4 linked regions of the Homo sapiens genome follow. The protein of the gene in region 1 purifies or fractionates together with the protein of each later gene. This does not show direct contact. Each region holds a gene or a part of one and is shown in the gene's direction. Other genes may lie near its edges.

Region 1 (4,784 bases):
CACGATCTTGGCTCATTGCAAGCTCTGCCTCCCGGGTTCATGCCATTCTCCTGCCTCAGCCTCCCGAGTAGCTGGGACTACAGGCGCCAGCCACCATGCCCAGCTAATTTTTGTTTTGAATTTTTTAGTAGAGACGGGGTTTCACTGTGTTAGCCAGGATGGTCTCGATCTCCTGACCTCGTGACCTGCCCACCTCGGCCTTCCAAAGTGCTGGGATTACAGGCATGGGCCACTGCGCCCGGCCCTTTTTTTTTTTTTTTTTTCTGAGACGGAGTCTTGCTCTGTCGCCCCGGGTGGAGTGCAGTGGCACGATCTCTGCTCACTGCAACCTCTGCCTCCCAGGTTCAAGTGATTCTCCTGTCTCAGCCTCCCAAGTAGCTGGGACTACAGGCGCCTGCCACCATACCTGGCTAATTTTTAAATATTTTTGGTAGAGACGGGGTTTCACCATATTGGCCAGGCTGGTCTCAAACTCCTGACCTTGTGATCCACTTGCCTTGGCCTCCCAAAGTGCTGGGATTATAGGTGTGAGCCACTGCGCCCGGCAGCAGGGAATTTTTTTTTTTTTTTTTTTTTTTTTGGAGATAGGGTCTCACTCTGTTGCCCAGGCTGGAGTACAATGGCATGATCACAGCTCACTGCAGCCTTGACTTCCTGGACTCAAGCAACCCTCCCACCTCAGCCTCCTGAGAAGCTGGGACCACAGAAGCATGCCACCACACCAAACTAATCTTTAATTACTTTTTTGTTTTTTGAGACGAGGTCTAGCTCTGTCGCCCAGGCTGGAGTGCAGTGGCTTGAGCTTGGATCACTGCAAGCTCCGCCTCCTGGGTTCAAGCTATTCTCCTGCCTTCAGCCTCCTGAGTAGCTGGGACTACAGGCGCCCATCACCATGCCCGGCTAATTTTTTGTATTTTTAGTACAGATGGGGTTTCACCATGTTGACCAGGCTGATCTTGAACTCCTGACCTCGTGATCCGCCCACCTCAGCCTCCCAAAGTGCTGGGATTACAGGTGTGAGCCACCATGCCCGGCCCTAATCTTTGATTTTTTTGTAGAGATGGGGTCTCCCTACGTTGCCCTGGCTGGTTTCAAACTCTTAGACTCAAATGATCCTCCTGCCTTGGCCTCCCAAAGTGCTGGGATTACAGGCATGAGCCACAGTGCCCGGCCCAAAGAGAGAATTTAATATGACCTTCAACCCACCACCCAGACATAATGACTGGCAGCACTTGCTTGTTTTTGTTGTACTTGCTTTTGAGCACGTCAAGAGGCAGTTTCAAGTAAATCATGGAGGTTGAGTTACTGTCCTGAGAATGACAGTCCCAGAGTGCAAGGCCACCCTTGCTCCTATCTGGAGGTGTCCCCTCAATGCTCTTCCCTACTGTTATCAGCTTCCAGGTGGGTATCTGGAGCTCTTGGCATCTGGACCAGGATTTTTAGACATCAAGTTAAAGAACAACTAGAAGAAAATATAATTAAATATTGGCCAGGTACGGTGGCTCATGCCTGTAAACCCAGCACTTTGGGAGGACAAGATGGGCAGATGACTTGAGGTCAGGAGTTCAAGACCAGCGTGGCCAAAATGGTGAAACCCCAGCTGTACTAAAAATGCAAAAATTAGCTGGGCATGGTGGCACGTGCCTGTAATCCCAGCTACTGGGGAGACGAGGCAGGAAAATCACTTGAACCCAGGAGGCAGAAGTTGCAGTGAGCTGAGATCATGCCACTGTACTCCAGTCTGGGTGACACAGTAAGACTCTGTCTCAAAAAAAACAGACAAACAAAAGGCCAGGCATGGTGGCTCATGCCTGTAATCCCAGCACTTTGGGAGGCTGAGGTGAGCAGATCACGAGGTCAAGAGATCGAGACCATCCTGGCCAACATGGTGAAACCCCGTCTCTACTAAAAATACAAAAATTAGCCAGGCGTGGTGGCACGTGCCTGTAGTTCCAGCCACTCGGGAGGCTAAGGCAGGAGAATCGGTTGAACCTGGGAGGCGGAGGTTGCAGTGAGCTGAGATTGCGCCACTGCACTCCAGCATGGCAAGAGAGGGAGATTCTGTCTCAAAAACAAACAAACAAACGAAACACCGGCTGGGTGCGATGGCTCACGCCTATAATCCCAGCACTTTGGGAGGCTGAGGCGGGTGGATTACCTGAGGTCAGGAGTTCAAGACCAGCCTGGCCAAGAAGGTGAAACCCCATCTTTATCAAAAAATACAAAAATTGGCCGGGCGCGGTGGTTCACACCTGTAATCCCAGAACTTTGGGAGGCTGAGGCAGACGGATCACAAGGTTAGGAGATCGAGACTATCCTGGCTAACATGGTGAAACCCCATCTCTACTAAAAATACAAAAAATTAGCCGGGCATGGCAGCGGACGCCTGTAGTCCCAGCTACTTGGGAGGCTGAGGCAGGAGAATGGCACGAACCTGGGAGGCGGAGCTTGCAGTGAGCCGAGATCGTGCCACTGCACTCCAGCCTGGGCGGCAGAGCGAGACTCCATCTCAAAAAAAAAAAAAAAAAAAAAAATTTGCAGGGTGTGGTGGTGCACACCTGTAGTGCTAGCTACTAAGGAGGGTGAGGTAGGAGAAACCCTTGAACCCGGGAGGCGGAGGTTGCAGTGAGCCCAGATCGTGCCACTGCACTCCAGCCAGGGCAACAGAGACTCTGTCTCAAACAAACAAACAAAAAGCAAAAACTTCAATGAGTGTGAAAGTACATAATTAAAATCAAAAGAAAAGTACACAGACCCAAGTGACTAAATGGGCAGAGGCTTCAAATTGATAATTAAGAAGCCACACACAGCTGGGCATGGTGGCTTGCGCCTATAATCCCAGCACTTTGGGAGGCCAAGGCGGGTGGATCACTTGAGGTCAGGAGTTTGAGACCAGCCTGGCCAACATGGCAAAACCTGGTCTCTACTAAAAATACAAAAATTAGCCAGGCATGGTGGCAGGTGCCTGTAGTCCCAGCTACTTGGGAGGCTGAAGCACGAGAATTGCTTGAACCTGGGAGGTGGAGGTTGCAGTGAGCTGAGATCGCACCACTGCACTCCAGCCTGGGCAACACAGCAAGACTGTCTCAAAAAAAAAAAAAAAAAAAAAAGCGCCACACACGTATTAGTCACACTCCCTAGGCTAAGAAACCCAATAAAATAAGAAAGACCATTTCTCATCTCTCAAGTTAGCAAATATATGTGTGCACGTGTGCATGTAAATATAATTTTTTTCCTATGGGGATGCCTAATGGTGGCAATATTATACCCTGCGGGGGAGCTGTGGACAGTGCTTCTGGAGGACAGTTTGGTAATAGCTTTAAAAAAAATCAGGCCGGGCATGGTGGCTCACACCTGTAATCCCAGCATTTTGAGAGGCCAAGCAGGATGGATCTCTTGAGACCAGGAGCTCGAGACCAGCCTGGGCAACATAGTAAAACCCTGTCTCTACAAAAAATACAAAAAAAATTAACTGGGCATGGTAGTGCATGCCTGTAGTCCCAGCTACTGGGAAGGCTGATGCAGGAGGATCACCTGAGCCCAGGAGGTGGAGGCTGCGGTGAACTGTGATCACTCCACTGAACTCCAGCCTGGGTGAAAGAGTAAGAATCTGTCTCAAAAACAAAACAAAAATCTCAGGCCAGGCGCGATGGCTCACGCCTGTAATCCCAGCACTTTGGGAGTCTGAGGCGGGCGGATCACTTGAGGTCAGGAGTTTGAGACCAGCCTAGCCAGCATGGTGAAACCTGGTTTCTACTGAAAATACAAAAATTAGCAGGGCGTGGTGGCACACATCTGTAATCCCAGCTACTTGGGAGGCTGAAACAGGAGAATCACTTGAACCCAGGAGGTGGAGGTTGCAATGAGCCAAGATTGCGCCACTGCACTCCAGCCTGGGCAACAGAGCAAGACTCTGTCTCAAAAACAAAAAAACAGGCCGGGCACGGTGGCTCACGCCTGTAAATCCCAGCACTTTGGGAGGCCGAGGTGGGTGGATCACAAGGTCAGGGGTTCAAGACTAGCCTGGCCAAGATGGTGAAACCCCATCTCCACTAAAAATATAAAAAGTAGCTGGGTGTGGTGGAAGGCGCCTGTAATCCCAGCTACTCAGGAGGCTGAGGCAGAGAACTGATTGAACCCGGGAGGCAGAGGTTGCAGTGAGCCGAGATCTTGCCATTGCACTCCAGCCTGGGCGACAGAGGGAGACTCCATCTTAAAAAAACCAAACCAAAACAAAAAACGACCAAATGCAGTGGCTCATGCCTGTAAATGCCAGGACTTTGGAAGGCCGAGGCGGGCAGATCACTTGAGGTCAGGAGTTCCAGACCAGCCTGGCCAACATGGTGAATCCTCATCTCTACCAAAAATACAAAAATTAGCTGGGCGTGGTGGCACACGCCTGTAATCCCAGCTACTCAGGAGGCTGATGCAGGAGAATCGCTTGAACCCAGGAGGTGGAAGGTGCAGTGAGGCGAGATCACGACATAGCACTCCAGCCTGGGCAATACAGGGAGACTCCATCTCAAAAAACAAACAAACAAACAAAAATCCCTGCTCTTGGATCCAGTAATTCCACTTCTGGGAATTAAACTATCAGGAAATTGGGAAAAAACCTTCATATTCAACGGTGGATGTCCTGGGGGTTAATTTCAAAAGGGAACTGCAGCGGTGAGCCAAGATCGCGCCATTGCGCTCCAGCCTGGGCAACAAGAGCGAAACTCCGTCTCAAAAAAAAAAGGGGGGCGGGGACTGCAAACAACCTAGATGCCCAGGCAGCCTCAGGG
Region 2 (5,020 bases), on another chromosome or scaffold:
AGAGATAGTTCTTGTATTTGTTGGTGGTGGCTGTAGAAAGGAGCCATGTGTTTTGGTTTTGTTTTTCATGGTGTAAATTCTTTTCACTTAGAACTTGCATTGGTTGAAAACTCTGAATTTTTCCTAGAAATACACTAGTATTTAAATGAGACTTATGCTATGGTCTAAATCTTTTACCTAGTACTGCTCTTAGCCAGGTATCAAGGGATCAATCGCAGGAACCACATATTTATAATTCATCTTGTCTCCATCCATCCATTCTTTCAGCTCTAAAACCAAGTGTTTGGTTTAGTGTTCTTGATTCCCACAGAATTGGCTGCCATTCTATAGAAAGAAGGGATAACCTTTGATACTCACTAGAGATCATTGGTTGTCCGCTGCAGATGCTATGACAACTACTGCTCAGTAGGCTTGTTCAAGTCCAGCTTATTCTTATAGAATCATAGCTGTCTCACAAAAGGTTGTCTCCAAGAAGGCACAAGACATGCATCCGCCTCATGTCTAGAAAACTGCAGCATGGCTTTCCATTTCCCTTCGTGTGCTGTCAGTAATAAACCCCTGCATGGTGATCAATCTGTGGACAATGAGAAAATTATAAAAGAACTAATCAAGATAGCAAATGACAACTTCGGTAGCTTATTGCCTAATGTTCAGAAACATCTTTCCTTGATATTTTTCTACATTTCTCAATTATTCTACCACCTCTTTTACTGCTCCCTTGGAAGACAAACATGACACTGCCCTGATAGAGTCTTGTATCATCCTTAAAAGTGCTTACATTCCCATGTGTTCTGTATAACGGTAATGTTTATATATGGTCTGGCTATTCTTGAATTTATCATTTTAAAAGGATTCAAAAATAGAATCCATTAGTGGTTACTTAATGTTTTTAGTTTTTGTTTAAAGAGTCTTTGCTTAAGTCCTGGGACTTCTTTGAACTTCTTATTTTAAGTTAATGAAATTAGAAGTCACCTTTAAATTTCACCTGAATTAATTTCTTGTTTACATTTTATAAACATTGAAGATACTAGCGTTAACACTGAAACAGTGAAAATTGTTTTCCTTAATGTTTTAAATGGCCATTTCAGAAGATCATATAAGCCTTCTCTCTTTTAGTAGCTTCACTTAACTAAATAAGTCTATCCTATATTTTAGGTATCTTCTAAATTTTAAGATATTTTGCAAAGTTCTAAAAACAAAAACAAGATTATCTTGTTTGTGACTAACCTTGTTAAGCTTTTAAATATGTTAGAAATCAAATAACTTAAGGTCTTCATGTGAACTCTACATTTTTCTGCTTTTTAAAAAATAGCCATTATCCTAAAGCAAACAAAAATCCTGTTATTAACATCCAAGCCAGAGCAGTCATGAATAGTTTTATTTGCGAACAAATAAGCTCACTCAAATCACATTAAAAATCACTCAAGGAGAATAATTTATAGGTATTGTTTTTCTACCTTTAATTTTTATTTTTCTATCTTTCAATTTCTATTTGTTCCTTTCCTAAGCATAAGTGCTCTTTTGGAGGTTTAATCAGTCAACCAGTATTTATTGGAAGTATTTTGTATGGAAGGCACTGAGCAAGCTGTTGTGAGATTCCTAAAGTATTTTAAGATGAGGTTTCTGCCCTATCTACTTAGAGAGGTAAGACATATTTACATCAACCCATAACTAATGATTCTAGATGATAAATGAGAAGTGCTAGATCATTTTTAAAAGTTTGTTTTACATACCATATAGATAAGTATTTTATTCTTCCTTTCCTTCCTGCCCTATTTAATACATAAGTAAAATTGTGGTCAGGAGAGTAAAGTAAGCTTTCAAGCTTTCTTCCTGTATGAAGAACATTATTGAGTTCCTGTTATTTTCTGTGCCAAACACTTCGCTATATTCTTTAAAATAATCTCATTTAATCCTTATAATAACTTTGTGAGGTAGGCATTATTCTCATTTTATCAGGAAATGGACTTAGAGGGCTGAAGTAACTTGTTGAAGGTCACCCTGCTAATTAGTAACGGAGCCAGGATTCCAATATAGGCCTCCTAGTTTGGTGCTTTTTCTTTTCTTTTCTTTTTTTCTTTTTTTTTTTTTTTGAGTTGGAGTCTCACTCTGTCACCCAGGCTGGGGTACAGTGGCGCCATCTCGGCTCATTGCAACCTGTGCCTCCCAAGTTCAAGCGATTCTTCTGCCTCAGCCTCCTAAGTAGCTGGGACTACAGGCGTGTGCCACCATGCCTGGCTAATTTTTGTATTTTTAGTAGAGATGGGGTTTCGCCATGTTGGGCAGGCTGGTCTTGAACCCCTGACCTCAAGCAATCCACCTGCCTCGGCCTCCCAGAGTGCTGGGATTACAGGTGTGAGCCACCGCACCTCGCCTGATTTGGTGCTTTTTCTTTGTTACTCTGTTCCACTGTGGTTCTGTTTGGTGTTGATGGAAAAAGCCATGCAAAGGAAGAACGATACTAAAAATTATAATTTTGAAAAGCAAAAGCCAAAAGGAGGAAGGGACCTTTATCCCATAGTATGAGATATTAAATGTTCTAATAGACTCTTAATAGGTTGCTTATGTATGTAAGTAACGCATCATTACTTGAGTCTATTGCCTTAACTAAGGAACATTTTAAAAGATCGTGTCTTAAAGAAGCTGGGTATAGTGGCACACGCCTGTGATCCCAGCTGCTCTGTAGGTTGAGGCAGAAGGATCACTTGATCCCAGGAATTTGAGGCTGCAGTGAACCATGACCACACCACTGGACTCTAGCCTGGACAACAGAAGGCGTCTCTGTCTCTAAAAAAAATTTTGTTATTTTATTTTTTAGAAAGATCCTATCTTTTACTAAATCTTAAATGTGAAAGTCTGGAATCCAGTGATAATAATCTTATGTTCTTATGTTTTAAAATGTGCTATGTTTTATGAATAATGGAATATTCTGTTACTACTAATAAAATTAATCATCAGTAACAGTAGTGAAACTTCAGATGGGATTAAAACCTACTTAATCTTAATATCCAAAGTATTAAAGAACTCAATATTTTAAATGTATTTAATTAGATCTCTGGCATGCTTAGAAAGACCAGGTGTTTGTTTCAAACTCCTTTCTAGTCCATAACCTTCATGATACTCTGCTATACATCTTCTGTCAATATTCTCATTAGTTAAGTATCAACTGCAGGCTTATATCTGTGCTTTGTTTTGTCAATACATCCTGGAAACTGACAGCTTTTTTGAAACTGAAATACATGTGGGGCAAAGCAGCATAAAATATGTAAGTAAACAAGACGTTCTCCTTGCTCACAGCAGCAGCCCCAAACCTGTTTCTCCTGGTAGGCTAAAGCCCTGGCCGCTTGTCTGACTCAACCTCCAGGAAATGAGTAACTGCTTCCTAGTGCCTCTACTCTGCTCCAAGCAGTAGGCATTCTTGCTGTTTCTTTAATATACTTTGTTGGTGAAGCTCATGGAACAGTGGTGTTCTTATGTAAGATCTACCAGTCAATTAAATATTAAAATACAGTTGTCTACAGCCAGGTGTTTTCAGTGTCTCCTTTACAGATGAATGGAAAAGTCATTTATATTTTGTCTTTGTTTTCAGCGTTCTTACTTCCGTACTCTTCTCATGTATGGGTTCCACTTTCTGGTGTGGTTCCTTTGTGTCAAAGGAATCAGGGACACACAGTGTGGGTTCAAATTATTTACTCGAGAAGCAGCTTCACGGACGTTTTCATCTCTACACGTTGAACGATGGTAGGTTTCTGACTGGAATGTATCCAGTCTGTCTTATGACCCAGCCATCTTCTAGGTAATGAGAAACAGCCCTGTATATTTATAATGAACATGTAGATTTAAACAAAATTGACAATAATGTATGTAAACTTGATCTTGCCTTTATACTTTTCCTGAGTTGGATCTTATTTTGAAAATACACAAACCCAACAATATGGTATAAAGTTATGTGTGTTCACCTTAATTGTAGACAGTAGAAATTGAGTGGCCTGAAAACATTTTTTTTCCTTTGAAGAAAAAAGAAAAAGCTCAGAAACATCAAAACAGAATAGGGCACCCATTTTCTCTTTTCTTCCTTCTACGGAAGATAAGGTGTCTTTCCTAAGACCGATCTTTTGACCTCTACATCTCCTTCCACCTTGTCAAAACCTAATCCTGTCCATGTATTTCATCTCTTGTGTATTCAGCCTTTTCCCTTCCATCACATCTTTCCCAGAACCCTTTCCATTGACCCTGCTGTGCCCTTCCAGCTCTAGCCCTGTCTCCTTCACAAGCAACCTTCTCTTGAAAAAGTGTTTTATATTCACTGGCTTTGTTTTCTTGCTTCCCACTCACTCCTCACCCCACCTTCTTCATATGGATTTTCTTCCATGCCTCATCATTTTTTTTTTTTTTTGAGTTTCGCTCTTGTTGCCCAGGATGGAGTACAATGGCAGGATTTCAGCTCACTGCAACCTCCGCCTCCCGCGTTCAAGTGATTCTCCTGCCTCAGCCTCCCAAGTAGCTGGGATTACAGGTGGGCGCTACCACACCCAGCTAGTTTTTGTATTTTTAGTAGAGATGAGGTTTCACCATGTTGGCCAGGCTGGTCTTGAACTCCTGACCTCAGGTGATCCACCCAAAGTGCTGCGATTACAGACGTGAGCCACTGCACCCAGTCTACTTCATCTTAACATCTAGCCACCTCTATGTCATTGAAGCCAGTGGTCATGTTAAATGACCACTTGTCACACTTAACCCATCAGCAGCATTTGATACTCCTGAGCTCTCTTTTGAAATATACTGGAGATACAGGTGGCTAGCACTGTTGTACAGAAGCTGAAACCCTGACATCAGCCCTGACATTCTCCACATGCATATATCCAATCCATGACAGGGCCTGTTGATTTTAGCTTTTGTGTTCCTCCATTTCTCTCCATCTCTACCACCGCCATCCAGAACACCATCCTTCTCCATACTACCATGCTGTAGCCCACAAGGTCTTTGCAAACTTAAGTGTGATCAATCATATGCACCTCTT
Region 3 (5,020 bases), on another chromosome or scaffold:
ACAGAGCTGAGATCCTATTTCGTGGGCCCTAGGTCCCTGTGCCTGCTGGAACAGGACATCCCTATCACCGTGGTTGGAGCCCTTTGGGGTGCTAAGACCTATGAATGAGGGAAACTTAGGGTGCCCAAGCTGAGGTAGAGCCCTCAGAACCCCCTGGGATTTGTATTGGAGCCCTCGTGGCATAACACAGGTGGATTATGCAATGGGAGTTTCTTACCTATAAGCACCCACATGTGGGCGGGTGGAGGGTAGGAGCCATGCACTAGGGCTTCAGCCCCCAGCCCCTTCCCGCTTCAGGGCACACCTTGCACTTGGCCAGCCTGGAGCTGGGCTTTCGGGGGTGGCACAGCCTGGGCTGGCTCTGGCCAGCATAATCTGTTTCTCTTTTGTCCCTCCAGGGAGGACCTCAGGGGTGGCTGAGCTCTTACCTGGTTTTCAGGCGGGGCCCATAGAAGGTACGGGGGGTGGATCCTGAGTTGGGCTTCTCGGGAGCTCCCATACATCACCTACTGCTTCTGACTCTAGTTAGTATCCCCTTCCCCACTAAACCCTGCTCACTGTGGACCCCTCACTAACCTGGCCTGACTGTGGCTCTGAGGCATCTAGTGGTCTGGCGCTGGGCCTAGGCTAGGCTGGGCTGAGGAGAGCCTGGGGTGCAGGCCAGGGCTCTGTGACTGGCACCTGCGGTGCTCTTGAGGGTGTGGCGTCTGGGCAGCTGGCTCTCTCTTTGGTCTGGGGGCTGCAGTCTGTCTCCCTCTGTGCAGGCTGCCTCGTTTTCTGCCTTGTGTTTTTTGCACCTGGGGGAGGGCCGTAACTGGGGAATGGCCGGGATGGTAGAATGGGGAGTGTGCTGTGCCCAGCCTCTGGCACAAAAAATCCAGCCAGGGCTGCAGGTTCCTTGGTGAGCTTTGCAAATCGTCCCCGACCTCAGTGCTGGCTCCGCACCATGTACCCCTGCTGTGCCGTTAGCCCTGTTCCCTCCCAGGCCTCCGGGCTCAGGGCCTGTTGTCTTTCTGCAGACTGGCTCTTCGTGGTTGTGGTATGCCTGGCTGCCTTCCTCATCTTCCTCCTCCTGGGCATCTGCTGGTGCCAGTGCTGCCCGCACACTTGCTGCTGCTACGTCAGGTGCCCCTGCTGCCCAGACAAGTGCTGCTGCCCCGAGGCCCGTAAGTGTCCCGCTCATGGCCACCCTGGTTTGGGCAACATCCTGCATCCAAGGGAAGGAGGTGGCCATCCACCTGCCCCCAGGACAGTGGCGTTGGTCTGGAGGGTGTGAATTTAGCCAGTGGGGAGAAAGTAGGCTGAGGAGGGTCTGCTGTTTAGATTGTCGTTTACTTCCTCCAACTTTTAGTTTATTTTTATTTATGTTGTTCTTTTCTTTTGTAAGTATAATCCATACACATGGTAAAAATGTCCAACAGTACAAGATACTAGTCACATGGAAGTAAAGCCCTCTAAAAAAACCAAATCTTGGCTAGGCGCAGTGATTACGCCTGTAATCCCAGCACTTTGGGAGGCCAAGACGAGTGGATCACTTGAGGTCAGGAGTTCCAGATCAGCCTGGCCAACATGGTAAAACCCAGTTCTCTACTAAAAATACAAAAATTAGCTGGGCATGGTGGTGATCGCCTGTAATCCCAGCTACTCAGGAGACTGAGGCATGAGAATCGCTTAAACCCAAGAAGTGGAGGTTGCAGTGAGCTGAGATCACGCCACTGCACTCCAGCCTGGGCGACAGAGTGAGACTCTGTCTCAAAAAAAAAAGAAAAAAAAATGTTAAGTGAAAAAGTTAAGAAACCAAACAAGGTTTACAACACTACATGATTTAAGCAAAAAAAATTTTTTTTGTTTTAGAGAAAGGGTCTCATTCTGTCATCCAGGCAGTGCAGTGCGATCATAGCTCTCTGCAGCCTCAAACTCCCGGGTTCAAGCAGTCCTCCCGCCTCAGCCTCTGGAGCAGCTGGGACTGTAGGCACACACCACCATGCCCAGCTAATTTTTTGATTTTTGTTTTTTGTAGAGACGGGGTCTCAGTATGTTGCCCAGCCTGATCTCAAACTCCTGGCCTCAGGTGATCCTCCCAAGTCAGCCTCCCCAAAGTGCTGGGATTACAGGCATGTGCCACCATGCTGGCCAATTTTTAAAAATTTTCTGTAGAGACAGGGTCTTGCTATGTTGCCCAGGCTGGTCTTGAACTCTTGACCTCAAGTGATCCTGCCTCAGGCTCCCAAAGTGATGGGATTACAGGCATGAACTACCACACCTGGCCTTAAACTTAAGCAAATTTTTTTTTTTTTTTGGAGACAGTTTCACTCTGTCGCCCAGGCTGGAGTAAAGTGGCGTGATCTCTGCTCACTGCAACCTCCGCCCCCCGGGTTTAAGCTATTCTCCTGCCTCAGCCTCCCGAGTAGCTGGGATATAGGCGCCTGCCACCACGCCTGACTAATTTTTGTATTTTTAGTAGAGACGGGGTTTTGCCATGTTGGCCAGGCTGGTCTCGAACTCCTGACCTCAGGCAGTCCGCTCCCCCGCACCCCTACCTTGGCCTCCCAAAGTGTTAGGACTACAGGTGTGAGCCACCATGCCTGGCCAAATTTAAGCAAATGTTTGAAAACACATACCCACAGGAATGCTGCACATTTTACCCAGCTACTATGTCTAGGGTCGTATCTAGCACACCAGCATGGCTACTGTGGAGAGCTGGGACTGGATGTGAGATGAGAGCTAAAGGGGAAGTAAGCAAACCAAGCAGGGGAAGGTAAGAGAAGACAGAAGACAGAGAGAGAGGGACCTAACTCTATGAGAGGAGTCAGACATGTGCAATTGAAAAAGACTTGCTCCTGTCTCTCTTCTGTGAATGTTTGTGAATATCCCAACGGGACACTTTCACAGAGGAGCTGATTGACGTGGTCACAGCCATCAGCCTTGGGACACCAGACCACAGTGTGTACACTAAGTGGCACTGATGGACACTTCAGCATCCCTCTAGCTGCTGTCCCGTTTCCCCTCCTCGGGGACCACAGCTGTTGCCAGTCCTTGGTTTCCTTCAGGAGGGTGTCTGGGTAGACCAGCCTGTGTGCACACAGTCCAAGATACATGAACAGTGAAGTGCCAGGCAATCCTTGCAAGCATGGGCAGGTGGAGAGCTGAGGCCTGCTTGACACCTTCCTGCTCAGAAGCCCAGTGAGCAGTTTCCCTCCCTAGGGCTCAGTGTCATCCCCTATAAAATGGGGCTTATGGCAGAGCTCACCACACTGGGTGCATCTGGGGATTTGGCGAGCTCATGTGCACACCATTGAGCATGGGGCCCAACCTATATAAAATATTCTACGTCTGTCAGCTGCTGGGCACTGCCACTATCAGCCTCAGTAGTGACTGAGGGACAGGGCACCAGTCAGAGCCCTGGTGCACACAGAGTGACCCCAGAGAAGCAGCCTTCCCTCTCTGAGTCCTGTTTCCTTCTGTTAGGTCCTGACTTCATGGGTTGTTGTTAGCATTAAGGAAGTCGCTGGCTAATTTTATAGTCATTGAAGTCAGTGGTGTGCAACCTGGTTCCTCAAAGGATCACTTCCCTGAAAAAATTCCACTGCTCCCTGGAGGCTTATGCAGGCCATCCCATCCCCTCCCTCTTGTTGTGTTCAGCTGACAGCTTTTTGCTCAGTGAGTAAGTGTTAGGTCCATTTCACAGATGGGCTGCAACCAAGTTTGCAGTGAACCCACTAAGACCAGAGCTAGGGCCAGGACTAAATGCTGGTCCCAATGCCACATTCCCCTGTCCCCACACCACATTTCCTCCATCCGGAGACCCTGTTACCCCAACCCAGGGCCCCATTAACTCCCTGGCAGAGGCCCTGTTACATCTGCTGCTGCCACAGCCTCCGCCCACCCTTCAGGAGGCAGCAGGTCCCACTGCTGATGATAAAGTTGCAGGCTGCCTGAGCTAATGAAGGGGCTTCCTCTAGGCTGTGCACTTAGTCTTCTGCTTCCAAACCAAATCAGAGGTGAGGCACCCTCTCTGGGCCCATCTCTCTCCTCCATTTTCCTGTTGGGGTCCCAGGGAGGAAGCCACTTGCCTAGGGCCCAGGAATTTTGCAAGCCTCTTGCCCTAGGGAGGAAGGAAGGGAGGAGGATCTTACCTTGAACTGTCAAGCCTAGAGCCTGGTGGGGCAGGCAGAAATGGGTGCAGTCCATGAGTTAGAAACACTAGAGGAGACACTTTGCTGCTTGGCCGGGGCAGGCAAGTTAATTCCCGAGGCTCCTGCCACTGCATCTCAATCTGGAAGGTGACCAGGTGGGCAGGACCCACGTCTCCCAGATGACTCATTTTTTCTAGAACAGGGGCTTGGCTGCCAAAGAGGATACTTGATTTCGGCTTGTGGGGACAGTGGTGGACCCAGCATCTGGGCTTTATATAAAGGGCAGCTTTGTTGCCCTGTAAACACACAGACCATGGGTGGCCACTTCTTCCAGTAAGTTAGCTGGGGAGTTGGAAGTTTAGGTAAAACCTTTTGATTGACAAATGTTGGCGAATTACCATGCTGTTAAATGAAACATTGTTCTGCCACCCTGGGGCTGTGGGTGCCTGCGTGCACCCTCTGAAAAATCACACAGGAAGTGGGGTGGGGTCTCTGTGAAGCTGGTGTCCCCCAGCCTCAGGGATGCTGCAGAAATGGAATGAGGACCAACAGGGACTCAGATGTCCAAGGAAGCTCTACAGCGGAGAGGACGGCTTGGGAAGGAGGTCCAGGCCCAGGTCCCTCCGGAACCCAATGGGTATGGGGCAGCCTGGCTCCTGCCTCATCCCCCTTCTCCTGTTGATTGTGTCCTCACAGTGTATGCCGCCGGCAAAGCAGCCACCTCAGGTGTTCCCAGCATTTATGCCCCCAGCACCTATGCCCACCTGTCTCCCGCCAAGACCCCACCCCCACCAGCTATGATTCCCATGGGCCCTGCCTACAACGGGTACCCTGGAGGATACCCTGGAGACGTTGACAGGAGTAGCTCAGGTGAGGCCGGGGGA
Region 4 (5,020 bases), on another chromosome or scaffold:
TTCTGAGACATTATGATATATGACAAGGGTAAGTTAAGTTTGAAAAGTGAGTTAATTTGAAGAAAGATATTAAGTAGTGCATATGTTAATAGCTTGATTTAGCCATTGACAATGTATACATATATCAGAATATCATTTTGTATGCCAAAATATATACAATGTTTCCTTGTCAGATATCAAAATATCCTTTCTTTTGTATAACATAAATATATATAATTTTTACTTGTCAGTTAAAAAATAACAAAAATATTAACTAAATGATAGTTCAGATAGTACTCAGATATGGCAAAAATGATAAAAGTGGTAAAAAATCATGGTAGAAATTTGAGACCATCTCAGTCCATTCTGACTACTATGACAAAACACCTCAGACTAGGTAATTTATAAGCTATAGAAATGTTATTGCTCACAGTTCTGGAGGCTGGGAAGCCCAAGATGAAGGGACTGGAAGACTCAGTGTCTAATGAGGGTCTGTTTCTCGTAGACAGTGCCTTCTCTCTGTGACCTCACATAGTGGAAGGGGCTAGCTAGCTCCCTCGGGACTGTTTTGTAAGGGCCTTAAAACCCTTCAGCAGGATGCACCGAAGGAACTTACCACTCTGGCCCCTTCTAACCCTACCACTGAGGTCCTTTTCTGTTTAACACTGACAGTTGTTCCATTACTGTTACTGATGACAGTATATCCTCTCTTTTTATTACAGCTGTGCCTGATATTCTATCCTTTCCATACTCATCCCAGTATAAACCACAAAATAGGTCTTCAGAAAAGACTGTGGCTTCACTGATTTTCCTGTGTTGCCTCCAACATTTATAAAAAAGCATTGACCAAGAGTGTCAATGCCCTAGTTTCAAAACCATCTTTACTTTTCTAAATGTAGATGTTTTTCCATTTATAAAAATTATGTAGACTTAGCCGGGTGTGGTGGCCCACACCTGTAATCCCAGCACTTTAGAGGCTAAGGTGGGTGAATCACTTGAGGTCAGGAGTTTGAGACCAGCCTGGCCAACACGGTGAAACCCGGTCTCTACTAAAAATACAAAAATTAGCCAGGTGTGGTGGTGCACACCTGTAACCCCAGCTACTCAGGAGGCTGAGGCACAAGAATTGCTTGAACCCAGGAGGCAAGGTTGCAGTGAGCTGAGATCATGCCACCACACTGCAGCCTGGGTGACAGAGTCAGACTGTGTGTCAAAAAAAAAAAAAAAGTAGACTTATACAAAATTTGAAAAATACAGGAAAGTAGAAAAGAAGAAAAAAAGGCATTTATATTCTTACTAATGAACCCTGCTAATCCCCTCCCTAATTAAAAATTCTCCTGCAAAATCCTAGCAAGTCGGGATCTACATCTGTTTATCATTCTGGAAGCTTGCAATGTTCTGGATTTAACATATTTTTGTTATTTCAAATCACAAAATAAATTTTCAATGGAGAATCCAGGGGTGGAGTTCTTTTGGCACCTCTATAAGGGGCAGTTGGGTGACTACCACAGAGGTGAGCCAAAGCTGGGGGAGGCTACTGCAGATCAAGGATAGTAATAACTGATACACTTTGCAAAATGCATTGTGTATGTAAAGCTCTTTGTCAATAATGATGGTTCACTGTTCCATGTATACATATGCTGATGTGTATATTTGTCTTTCCTGTAGGGTTTTTGGAGTCTCTGGATGATTTTTACATTCTTAGCAGTGGATTGATATTGCTGCAGACCACAAACAGTGTGTTTAATAAAACCCTGCTAAAGCAGGTAATACCCGAGACTCTCCTGTCCTGGCAAAGAGTCCGTGTGGCCAATATGATGGCAGATAGTGGCAAGAGGTGGGCAGACATCTTTTCAAAATACAACTCTGGTAAGTGACCCTGCAGAATAACTGTTAGGCACAGACATATATTTTGATTTAGGCTTGTTAACCAGTAAAGTCATACCCATGCCCCGTCTTCATGTTTCCTGATATTTCAGGCACCTATAACAATCAATACATGGTTCTGGACCTGAAGAAAGTAAAGCTGAACCACAGTCTTGACAAAGGCACTCTGTACATTGTGGAGCAAATTCCTACATATGTAGAATATTCTGAACAAACTGATGTTCTACGGAAAGGTACTTTCTTCATGTCGTAAGTCTTAAAACCTGATGAGTATGTGTGTGTTCATATATGGTAGGGGAATGCACATTGTGTGAATGTGTGGTGGGGGAGGGTATGGTGGGGAAGACAGGATGGGGATGCTATATTACACCAGAATGACCAGGTTTAGCACAACATGTAAACCTACATCTCAAACTCTTATAGGACAATGTGCAGATTGGGACGCAAATCAGGCATTCATGACTCTATGATTTCTCATAGTTCTAATGTTACCTTTTCTCCTGTGTTCCTGGTTAAAGCTTTAAGTTCAATTCAGCAAATATTTTTGGAGTGCCACTGTGGCCCAGGGACTAGAAAAGCAAGGATACAGAATCCCTGACCTGGAAGGACTCAGGAGTCTAGTAGGGAAGCAAAGCACTCAAAGCAGCTGCAGGAACTCAGGATGGGAAGAGCTGTCATCAGGTCTCATGTCCCTAGGCCAGTGGTGAACCTAAACAGAACGTGGCTGTTAGTGGGTGGAGTCAGAGAAGGCACTTCTGGTGGGCAAGAAGGAGTCCAGACATTTGAAGCCAGGAGGCTCACTGCCTTGATTCAAATCTCAGTTCCTTAAAATCTCAGGCAAATTAGTGAATCTCTCCAAGCCTCATTTTCCTCATCTATAAAACTGAATCGTGATATAGGTCCACAACCACGTATTTGTAATTTTAAAATTCCAAAATTGTAAAACCACAAATTATTATTTTGTTTCTCTTGTTTTGCTTTGATTTGGTAGCCTAGCTCACTTGGTAGCAAGAAAATGACCTGATCTGAACTCACTTGGCAGCAAAAACTACCAGAAAGAAACTTTTAGTGGTTTTTAATTTTAATTTTTATTTTTCTTCAGATGGAGTGTCGCTCTGTCACCCAGGCTGGAGTACGGTGGTGCGATCTCGGCTCCCTGCAACCTCTGCCTTTCGGGTTCAAGCGATTCTCCTGTCTCAGCCTCCTGAGTAGCTGGGACTACAGGCACGTGCCACCACACCTGGCTAATTTTTTGTGTGTTTTTAGTAGAGACGGGGTTTCACCAGTTGGCCAGGTTGAACTCCTGACCTCAGGTGATCTGTCTGCGTCGGCCTTCCAAATTGTGGTGCCCAGCCTGTTTTTTTAAATTGTCTTTATTTCCTCTTAGAGACACCATGTATACATTAGGCTACAGAAATATCAACATCTTTGATTATGAGGTGTTTCCCAAAGAGACTGTAATGTCATATAATCCATGCACTCCATGGTTGTTCTAAAGTCTGAAAAACCCTAAATTCTGAGACTCATCTGGCTCCCAAGAATTTCTGGATGTGGGAGTGTGGAACTCTACAATTTCACAGGATGGTCATGAAAATTAATTAAGATAAATAGATAGATTTATTGAGAGAAAATGTTAGCTTTAAAAATCCTACTGGACAGTTCAGACTTTATGTTTTAGAAATTGGGAGTTCCTGACAAGGGAGAATAGACTGGGTGGGAAGAAAAGAGACTAGTTAGGAGACTATTGCAATAGATCAACTGGCAGATGAATAGGGACAGAACGGAGATAAAGTGTGGACCCTAGGGATCAGGACCTGGTCCTCAGTTTTCCAGGTCCCCAAATTGACTTTGTAATGATGCCTAGAGTGAGCCTTGTCAGTGGAGAATGGGTCACACCAACTAAATGCACTAAGACTTATGCATAAAACAAAAGGTGGGAGTTTCATTGCCAAGCAGTTCATATGCTACCAAGCAGTGGACCTACCTTCTTCTTTGCTTGTTAGGAAAATCCATCCAAGAAGTCAAATCATTAGGTGGTTACTGTTTAGCATAGAGCAATTCAAAACAGAGAACCCAGCTCCTAAGAGCCTGAAAATAATAGCATGCCTCAAGAGAGAGAGATGCTTGCTAAAGTAGTCTTTTCTTCTTTGGACAGTTGCTGATAACAGAATGGTAGACTTGGTTCTCTGCAGTCCCATTCCTAGACCCCTTGAAACTCCCTAAGACTAAAAAGAGTTGATGATGATCTGTCTGTATTTTTTTTTCTTTGCCAGAGGAGAGAAGAACAGAGAGTTAAATTCAGAGTACCTACTGCATTCTAGACACTCTTCTGGGCCTTTTACTTATGTTCTCTTGTTTGATGTTTGTAACATACTACCCCATAAGTGTTATTGTTGCCATTTTACTGTGAGTAAAGAAAAGCTCAGAAAGAAACATGTTTTGCCCAAACAAATACATGATATCATATAGCCATTAAAAAGGCGGGGGCGTCGGGGTCGGGGGTGGGCACATCTCCTAACGTATTTAAGCAACTGTGGTATGGTGATAGAAGCCCTGGATGTTTTAGTTAGAAGGCCTGTATTCTGTCAAGTTTTGTGAGCCAAGGAAGACAATTGACCTCTCTGAAACTCTGTTTCTTCTGTTTAAAAAAGGGATGGTAATACTTATACATCATCAGGTTTTTGTGAGATTAAACAAGCTGCTCTATTTTCTTTATTTATTTTGAGACAGGGTCTCGCTTTGTCACCCAGGCTAGATTGCAGCTGCGTGATCTCGGCTCACTACAACCTTTGCCTCTCGGGTTCAAGCGGTTCTCGGGCCTCAGCCTCCCGAGTAGCTGGGACCACAGGTGTGCACCCCAATGCCTGGCTATTTTTTTATATTTTTAGTGGAGGCAGGGTCTTGCCATATTGCCCAGCCTGGTCTTGAACTTCAGAGCTCAAGCAATCCACCTGCCTCAGCCTCCCAAAGTGCTGGGATTACAGGCACAAGCCACTGCACCAGGCCAAGTTGCTCTGTTTTAAATCACGAAGCTTCATGAAATGTGAAGTATAAAGTAGACATTTTCGTTATTCATTTGAGCTGTTTTCACAAAGAGAAATATAATAATCTAATGTTTACCAAGTATTAGATACTATTGTAAGCACTCCATCTG

What was found. The genes of interacting proteins can lie anywhere in the genome.
Region 2: the proteins of LSMEM2 (region 1) and ALG5 purify together in Homo sapiens (affinity purification with mass spectrometry; one large-scale study listed by BioGRID and IntAct). This does not show direct contact.
Region 3: the proteins of LSMEM2 (region 1) and LSR purify together in Homo sapiens (co-immunoprecipitation; 2 studies listed by BioGRID and IntAct, with this or other methods). This does not show direct contact.
Region 4: the proteins of LSMEM2 (region 1) and PLBD1 purify together in Homo sapiens (co-immunoprecipitation; one large-scale study listed by IntAct). This does not show direct contact.

Annotation. Positions count from the first base shown.
Region 1 is NC_000003.12:50,281,116-50,285,899, forward strand, and holds part of LSMEM2 (leucine-rich single-pass membrane protein 2), read left to right. Parts: intron 1-4,784.
Region 2 is NC_000013.11:36,964,296-36,969,315, reverse strand, and holds part of ALG5 (dolichyl-phosphate beta-glucosyltransferase), read left to right. Parts: intron 1-1,508; exon of another isoform or gene 1,509-1,644; intron 1,645-3,589; coding exon 3,590-3,741; intron 3,742-5,020. UniProt on the Homo sapiens protein: Dolichyl-phosphate beta-glucosyltransferase that operates in the biosynthetic pathway of dolichol-linked oligosaccharides, the glycan precursors employed in protein asparagine (N)-glycosylation.
Region 3 is NC_000019.10:35,261,527-35,266,546, forward strand, and holds part of LSR (lipolysis-stimulated lipoprotein receptor isoform 2 precursor), read left to right. Parts: intron 1-398; coding exon 399-455; intron 456-1,019; coding exon 1,020-1,166; intron 1,167-4,832; coding exon 4,833-5,006; intron 5,007-5,020. UniProt on the Homo sapiens protein: Probable role in the clearance of triglyceride-rich lipoprotein from blood. Binds chylomicrons, LDL and VLDL in presence of free fatty acids and allows their subsequent uptake in the cells.
Region 4 is NC_000012.12:14,508,339-14,513,358, reverse strand, and holds part of PLBD1 (phospholipase B-like 1 precursor), read left to right. Parts: intron 1-1,647; coding exon 1,648-1,848; intron 1,849-1,958; coding exon 1,959-2,099; intron 2,100-5,020. UniProt on the Homo sapiens protein: In view of the small size of the putative binding pocket, it has been proposed that it may act as an amidase or a peptidase.